2 separate regions of the Homo sapiens genome follow, and region 2 is reported to be linked to region 1. The links are microRNA targets in miRTarBase. Many come from high-throughput screens and were not tested one by one. Region 1 holds a microRNA gene; the other region holds the end of a gene's coding sequence.
Evidence for each region. Region 1 holds the annotated microRNA hsa-miR-550b-3p (UCUUACUCCCUCAGGCACUG, at 1,463-1,482, shown strand). A microRNA usually pairs through its seed, bases 2 to 8, with sites in the 3' UTR of a target mRNA and lowers its output. Matches are read on the target gene's strand: a 7mer-m8 pairs with bases 2 to 8, a 7mer-A1 pairs with bases 2 to 7 and ends in A, and an 8mer does both.

Region 2: the mRNA of TNFSF15 is a reported target of hsa-miR-550b-3p. The part of its 3' UTR that is shown has no 7-base or 8-base seed match.

Annotation. Positions count from the first base shown.
Region 1 is chr7:30,287,039-30,291,295 of GRCh38, reverse strand. It overlaps MIR550B1 (microRNA 550b-1), which reads left to right and starts at 1,406; the gene lies at 1,406-1,502. All of the region lies in intron 1 of ZNRF2 (zinc and ring finger 2), which reads right to left. MIR550A1 (microRNA 550a-1) reads right to left here and starts at 1,502; the gene lies at 1,406-1,502.
Region 2 is chr9:114,786,911-114,791,167 of GRCh38, reverse strand. It overlaps TNFSF15 (TNF superfamily member 15), which reads left to right. Exons shown (of 4, transcript NM_005118.4): 4 at 262-4,257. The coding sequence ends at 716. Among named protein-coding and RNA genes, the nearest start is that of TNFSF15, 17 kb to the left of the region's middle.

The DNA.
Region 1 (4,257 bases):
TTCATTAGATAAAACAAACCTACAGCACTATAAAATCTTTCAACTGGCTCCACTTTCTATTTTTCTAGCTTCAGGTTCTCATCATTCCTCTATGCACCCTACAATCCAGACATATTTAACTTTTCAGTATGCCCTATCAAAACCCACACTTTTGTGGATTTTTCTTTAGTCTGTACTGCCCTCTCTCCGTACAACTTCTAAATCCTTCAAACTACAGTTCAAACGTACCCTCCTCTGTGAAGCATTTTTTGACCAGCCTAGACAAAGATACTTCACTAAGTGTTTTGTTAACAGTTCTATTACAGAATTTGTTGCATTGTATAATGATCACATATATCCATCTCTCAAATTCAATGGAGAGTTGAGCAGTGCATAAAGAAGCTCCATATTTGTACCCTCAGTATCTATAATGTCCAGCCCCTAAAAGGGGTTAAGTTCATGTTTATTAATGCTATACTTAACCATATGCATTAGTACAACTTTTTAAAAGTAAATTAAAATGAGTTTAAAAAAGAAGTTACATGTTCAGCTGTCAATCTATCTATAATCCATGTGGCAGAAAGAACTGATGTGACTATTCTTGATTCCTACACTTCCTGGTGTTTAAACCTTTGTATAATTCCCTCCCCTTGCACGTGAACTGGACCTATGACTTGCTTCTAATGAATGAAATACAGCAAAGGCAATGGGTTGTATGTGATTACATGTACACGATTATGTAAGAACATAGCACCAGTTCACCTTTCCTTTGCTTACTTTGAAGAAGCAAGCTGCTCTGAACCTAACAGACACAAGGAAATAAATTCAGCCAATAACCCAAGGAAGTCTGTGGGCAGACCTTTCCCCAGTTGAGTCACTAGATAACAACCCTGCCCTGACCTACACTTTGACTGCAGTCTTAAAGAGGACACAGCTAAGTTGTGCCCAGCCTCTTGACCCACAGAAATTGCAAGGCAATAAACGTGTTGCTTAGAACCACTAAATTTGCAGTCATTTGTGAATAAGCAGCTTAGAAAACGAATAAAATCAGAACCTAAGGTATTTCTGAACCCTTTGTTCACAAAAAGGCCTATGTTTTGTCCAATTTCTTAACAAATAAATGTCATGTACATGCAAAATTAAAACACAGACTAACATTTCAAATAACAGTTCTTAAGAATATTCACATAAAACTTAGGAAGTAATTTGCTACATAAAGCAGTTCCTACACTCTCTTTTAACACATTTGCCAATATACCCAATTATACATAATACTACATGTAATAAGTTTAATATTAGGGCAATTCTCCTTAAAACCCAAATAATAATAAATAGTTTAAAAGTTGATATCTCATTAATGATATTTGGTAATCAGAAGAACTTAGTTACTGGTCACCAGGCAAAGCGATCAAATTGGAGGAGAGCAAGAGACTTGTTGGAGATGTGCCTGAGGGAGTAAGACACTATCTTACAACAACAGGGCTCTTACTCCCTCAGGCACTGCACCAGCCAGCAAAGCATCAAAATACCAGGTTCTTAGGTCACGCTGCTCTCAGATCAGGTGATGCCCTGTGCAACTCACCAATCCTCCCCACCTTGCAGTCAAGAATAATTCCAAAAAATTCCCAAAGCAGAAACTTCCATGACACAGGCCACACTTACACACAGCAAAACATGTAACACGAAGGTATGAAATTACAAGTGAGGAACAATAACCACCAAAATTCTTATTACTTCAGGAGTGGCAGGGGTTGTGGTTAGAAGGCTCATTTTTCTTAGAAAGAGGCAAACATTCCTCTTCGGCCACTCCCCATAAAAGCCTTCAATGGCACAAAATAACATTCAGGAATAGGAAATAGATTAATTACAATATCCCAAATTCAAACATTTTGGCACTTGATATTGGTAAGAAGTGATAACTGAGACCGATTCCATAATGGTTAATTGATGAAGATAACCTAACACCATAAAACTTCACATCTGCCTTAAAAATTAAGAGAAATCTTCCTAGAAATACAGGTCTTATTCAACATATTCAGTTTTAAGAGATAACCCACACTCCTTCAATATAAGAAAACATGTTTCACAAGTAGCAAGGCACCTGAGTTACAATCAGACTACTGAAATACTCATGAGCAAGCCACACCCAAAAAAGCTCAAGAAAATCAGGAGGCCAAAAGCAACCCAGCACCACTGGTTGTCTTAGATTAAGTCATTTTACATTTTCACTTCTGGACTCAAGGATACATTATAGAAGTCCACACGATTTCTCTGGAAATAATCTCCATGTATTGGTATATTTCTATAGCCCAATTCATCTACCCCATCCTTGCTGCATCATTAAAGGCTATTTGACCACTCATATTATGCTCTTATGAACAACAGCTACTTGACAGTGGAAAAAAAAACGTAGACGTAAATTAAAGCCAAACAAACCCTAAAATACCATCAACATTTTTAAATATTAGGAAATACCCTTAAGACCTGTTTTAAAACAAAGGTGATGGACGACACTAGCAGTAGTCAAGAAAGCGTCTGTTCACTTTAACACTCCTCAGTCTGAAAAGAATAATAAGGACAAGATTTACTTCACCTAAAAACTCCTATATAAATATAATCACATTCTGATGTCTGGCAACTCAATTCTAGGAAATTTCTACACACTGAAATATCTGGATTAGGCATTTTTCTTCCAGTTCTCTAGAGAGAATAAGAGTGTATATAGCCAAAACAGATGTCCAAATGACATCAAAACATAAAACCAACACAGAAAACTTCCTCGTTCAATGTGGCAATTCATTATGAGAGAACTACTAACAATTCCACTTGCTAGACTCTTAAGTGTTAAAAATAAAAGGGGGGGACTGTTTTTCATTTTCTATAAATTACATGAGAGCTCACAAGAGAATAATTTTGAATCTTATTAGTACCACATTTTCTTATTAGGAGACGTTAATAATATAAACAACAATTAAAACAACAGTTTTACAAAAAACAATACGAACTTTCCACTAATTCTGAAATAATCCTTTTATCAATTTTCAGATGCAGTTATTTGTATATAACCATTTATACAATTTGTAACTGAATAAACACAATAATGTTATAATAGATACTAAAAAGTTAAGTAAATGTGAACTAGTCAAGTCTTTTTTAATTATAAGATTCTTCATTTAGCTCCCTAAATCTCAAGATGATGAGAAACATGCTTCTATTGTTTTCCTAATAACCCGTCCACTAAAATATAGGTAAAAATCTCAGTAAGGCAATGCCACTAAGATGGGTTTTTACGTAAATGTATTCCATCTCCCTGCCTCAACAGAGATTTCAGGATGTGGCACTTTCATCTGATCCTGTCATATAATAAGAACAGGTAATTTCTCTGATGTCTTTCCAGCAATTCTCAACTGAGGTTCCTCATCTGAATCACCAAACACAGGAAATTATTTCAGTGACTTTTCTCAATTGTTCCAAGAATGATACATAACTAAAACCGTTCTAAATGCACTGGAGCTAAAAGTTAAAATTCATTGCACACTACGGCACAATTGTCTCCAGAAAGCCGGGTGAGAAAGGCTGCTGTAAGTTCCTCAGAAAGTGTCACTGTACTACTAGGCCCCAGTCACCCAACCCCAACAGCACTAAAAGAACTATAATGAGTGCACAAATCTAGAACTTAGATAAGAAAAAAGATAAATGCTTTATCTCCAACTTTAAGCAACTAGGTATTTTTACTTACTAGGAATAGCATGGGGCTCAACTGTCTCTTGCTCTGAATAGAATGCATTTACTTAACAAAATAAACCCACAGAACTATAATGTTTCTCAAAGGGAATTATCAGCTCTTAGAAAATGAATTTTTAGAAATCAGCATATTAAATAAATATTAACTATTAACTTGACAAGGCTTTTCCTATTCACCCTTCTTTAGCAAACTTAAATATTCATCTTCTAATAATTGCTAAATGCAAATTTTCACTTTAAAAAGATAATGATAAACATTAAAAACCAGTTTGCCCTTCATTCTCGCACTAATCACCAATTCTCAGAAACTGCCTTTTATATTCTTCAGTGCGGACTACAGCAACTTCAACTGTTAGGTTAGTTGTGATCAAATCACTTTAAGGACACCAGTAGAGTTCTTTTACTCAAAATCAAAAGCAAATGACTTTTAAAAATAGCCCAATTTTAAGAGGGATGAATATTTTTAAGAAGCAAAAATTACTTTAAAACAAGGTAGCTAATTAAAAGTCAAGCGTCGTTCCAATTGAATTTGCA
Region 2 (4,257 bases), not on the chromosome of region 1:
AATTAAAAATTTTCAGGTCAGACCACTCAGTCTCAGAAAGGCAAAGTAATTTGCCCCAGGTCACTAGTCCAAGATGTTATTCTCTTTGAACAAATGTGTATGTCCAGTCACATATTCTTCATTCATTCCTCCCCAAAGCAGTTTTTAGCTGTTAGGTATATTCGATCACTTTAGTCTATTTTGAAAATGATATGAGACACTTTTTAAGCAAAGTCTACAGTTTCCCAATGAGAAAATTAATCCTCTTTCTTGTCTTTCCAGTTGTGAGACAAACTCCCACACAGCACTTTAAAAATCAGTTCCCAGCTCTGCACTGGGAACATGAACTAGGCCTGGCCTTCACCAAGAACCGAATGAACTATACCAACAAATTCCTGCTGATCCCAGAGTCGGGAGACTACTTCATTTACTCCCAGGTCACATTCCGTGGGATGACCTCTGAGTGCAGTGAAATCAGACAAGCAGGCCGACCAAACAAGCCAGACTCCATCACTGTGGTCATCACCAAGGTAACAGACAGCTACCCTGAGCCAACCCAGCTCCTCATGGGGACCAAGTCTGTATGCGAAGTAGGTAGCAACTGGTTCCAGCCCATCTACCTCGGAGCCATGTTCTCCTTGCAAGAAGGGGACAAGCTAATGGTGAACGTCAGTGACATCTCTTTGGTGGATTACACAAAAGAAGATAAAACCTTCTTTGGAGCCTTCTTACTATAGGAGGAGAGCAAATATCATTATATGAAAGTCCTCTGCCACCGAGTTCCTAATTTTCTTTGTTCAAATGTAATTATAACCAGGGGTTTTCTTGGGGCCGGGAGTAGGGGGCATTCCACAGGGACAACGGTTTAGCTATGAAATTTGGGGCCCAAAATTTCACACTTCATGTGCCTTACTGATGAGAGTACTAACTGGAAAAAGGCTGAAGAGAGCAAATATATTATTAAGATGGGTTGGAGGATTGGCGAGTTTCTAAATATTAAGACACTGATCACTAAATGAATGGATGATCTACTCGGGTCAGGATTGAAAGAGAAATATTTCAACACCTTCCTGCTATACAATGGTCACCAGTGGTCCAGTTATTGTTCAATTTGATCATAAATTTGCTTCAATTCAGGAGCTTTGAAGGAAGTCCAAGGAAAGCTCTAGAAAACAGTATAAACTTTCAGAGGCAAAATCCTTCACCAATTTTTCCACATACTTTCATGCCTTGCCTAAAAAAAATGAAAAGAGAGTTGGTATGTCTCATGAATGTTCACACAGAAGGAGTTGGTTTTCATGTCATCTACAGCATATGAGAAAAGCTACCTTTCTTTTGATTATGTACACAGATATCTAAATAAGGAAGTATGAGTTTCACATGTATATCAAAAATACAACAGTTGCTTGTATTCAGTAGAGTTTTCTTGCCCACCTATTTTGTGCTGGGTTCTACCTTAACCCAGAAGACACTATGAAAAACAAGACAGACTCCACTCAAAATTTATATGAACACCACTAGATACTTCCTGATCAAACATCAGTCAACATACTCTAAAGAATAACTCCAAGTCTTGGCCAGGCGCAGTGGCTCACACCTGTAATCCCAACACTTTGGGAGGCCAAGGTGGGTGGATCATCTAAGGCCGGGAGTTCAAGACCAGCCTGACCAACGTGGAGAAACCCCATCTCTACTAAAAATACAAAATTAGCCGGGCGTGGTAGCGCATGGCTGTAATCCTGGCTACTCAGGAGGCCGAGGCAGAAGAATTGCTTGAACTGGGGAGGCAGAGGTTGCGGTGAGCCCAGATCGCGCCATTGCACTCCAGCCTGGGTAACAAGAGCAAAACTCTGTCCAAAAAAAAAAAAATAAAATAATAACTCCAAGCCTTTAAAAAATATCATCTGAAACTGTTACATCAGATTTCTGGCACTCTACTGACTGTGGAAGATAGCCAGCTGACTGGAAGATAGCCAGCTGATTAGTTCCCTGAAGAAACCTGAAGACAGATACCTGGTTAACTAGATCAACTACACTGCCAACTTGTTTGATGCTGAGAGACAATGGACTTATTCCATGGGGGAAGGGAAAAAAGAAGTCAATCACCAAATCTGAAGAAGTTAACCTAGATCTTTGAGGTTTGATTTGCAACTTTATATGCAGAGTATTATGTGGGTATTTTCCCTTAAAATATTCAAAGGGATTTACATATGGGATTAGCTAATGAGCCTAGCCAAGACCTTCCCTGGAGGACAGGCTGGTCATTGCGGAGGTCCCTTCTGTGCTTCAGTGGGTTCATATCCTCTAGTCCGTATGATTTTCCTACGCTAATATGTCAAGGGCAGGAGAGGCAGCTCTGTTCTCCTAGCCTTTGTTGACTTGTCTGCAAAGCAGGAATCTGCCCATTTGTTTCCAAGGAGCAAATGAGCTCATGAGAATGAAAGATGTTAACTTCATGCATTCTGTGCCATCTGAGCATTTCGGTATTATATGACTGGTGACCCTTGGCCCGTATTATAAATGCTTCCTATCCTGGGAGACCTCATGGATGAGTCTGAGAGGAAATTTGGCACCAAAATCACTCTCACTCTGGTTTCCAGTAGACTATAGAGGCAGAGAGGCATTTGAGAGGCTCCTGAGCAAAGTGTCCAGTGTAGCAGGAGCACTTCATTAATATTTATTGAGTTATAATTAAATAAAAATTAATTTCTGATTTCTCAGTTTGGAGGTTAAGGCTCTAAATATATTTTCTAACCTCTGCTAGGCTAACTTAAGCCAGGCCTTTTTCTTGCCTTCCCTTTCTCAAAACAGTCAGCACAGACTCAGTGGGAGCACAGAGGAGTGTGGTCACCTCCACCTGGCTCACCAGAGTCTTCATAGAGGAAGTGAAGCCTGGAAGAAACTGGGCGGGCCCCAGATGACCACAGGGAAAGGGCATCTCAGATGGAGGAATTACCCTTGACTTAAAGCAGAAAAGAAAGATTTCTCAGTAACTCCAAAACTTGCTTGATAGGAGAATATTCCCTCAACCAATTCCTAGGACAATATTTATTGGTAGATCAAGAATGTTTCCTCAATAACTCTAGTCTAGCTCCATGATCAGAACTAACACCCATTAAAAACATAAAATGTTCTTTCTGAACCGGTCTTCATGGTGCGTGAGAGCACCAAGCAGCTTTGGTATGCAGGAGGAGTTTTGCACAGAAGAGTGGCCTGCTCAAACCTGCCCACTGTTCTGTAGGTGATCTGGTGGATCTGGAAATTTATCCCAAGACAGGAATTTCCTAATATTCGAAGACATTTGAGGCTTTGGGAAATTCTCTGCTGTGCATTTATTTGGCTCCTGTCATAAGCTTGTTTTTTAAAGAATGTATCATAGCTCAAGTTTTTACTGCTGATTTTGTTAAATTCTGTATAGTATATTTTTTACGGAAAGGCACAGTCAGACATTCCTAATAGGGCTCATGTCAGAACTTCTGTTCCCAAGGCATTATCTCCATAGCAAAAATTAGTGCACTGTTTTCAAAAGTGAGGTGGGAAAATGCTTTTAAGATCATGTGATGTTCCCCTAAAAGGGGTTAATGGGGTGTATTCAGGGTTTGGGAGGGAGGAAGAAGCATGCTTTAGAAAACAGTAAATTTAGGGAGAAAATGCTTTGTTGGTTAAATGTCACTCAAAAGGCTGAATTCAAATCAATTCCACAAACATTTACTGAGTACCTACTGCCCCTGGGGACACAGAGATAAATTATTTAGTCTCAGACACACTCATTCTAACTTCCCAGCACCTCTACTGTCTGCAGATTCTTTAATTTATTTTGGTTGTATTAGCTAATTAATTCGTAAACTTTAGGCACATGGATCTATTCTCATTATGAAAATGGATGCCATTTGATTAAGGCTGATGACTAACAAAATGATTTGTGTTTACTCGAAGTGTTTTTTTAAAAATAGCTACTCAAGGATAGTTTTCCATAAATCAAGAAGGTAAAAAAGTTCCCATTTTTTATTGTAGAATCCATTATTTAAACTACATGTAGAGACAGGTTATTATTTGCTATATTCAAGTTTGGTCATCAATACCCTTAAAAATATTAGAATTTTATGGATGACCCAGAAATGCTTTGAAAATCTGTGTTCCTCAGCAAATACAGAGACCATGATCAAAATGCACAGAATCACTAACATTTTGATGCTAGCATGGTTTCAGTCTATTTGGCAGAACAGAATTGATTATGCTACTAAAATTTCTTTTTCTTTTTTTTTTTTTTTTTTTTTG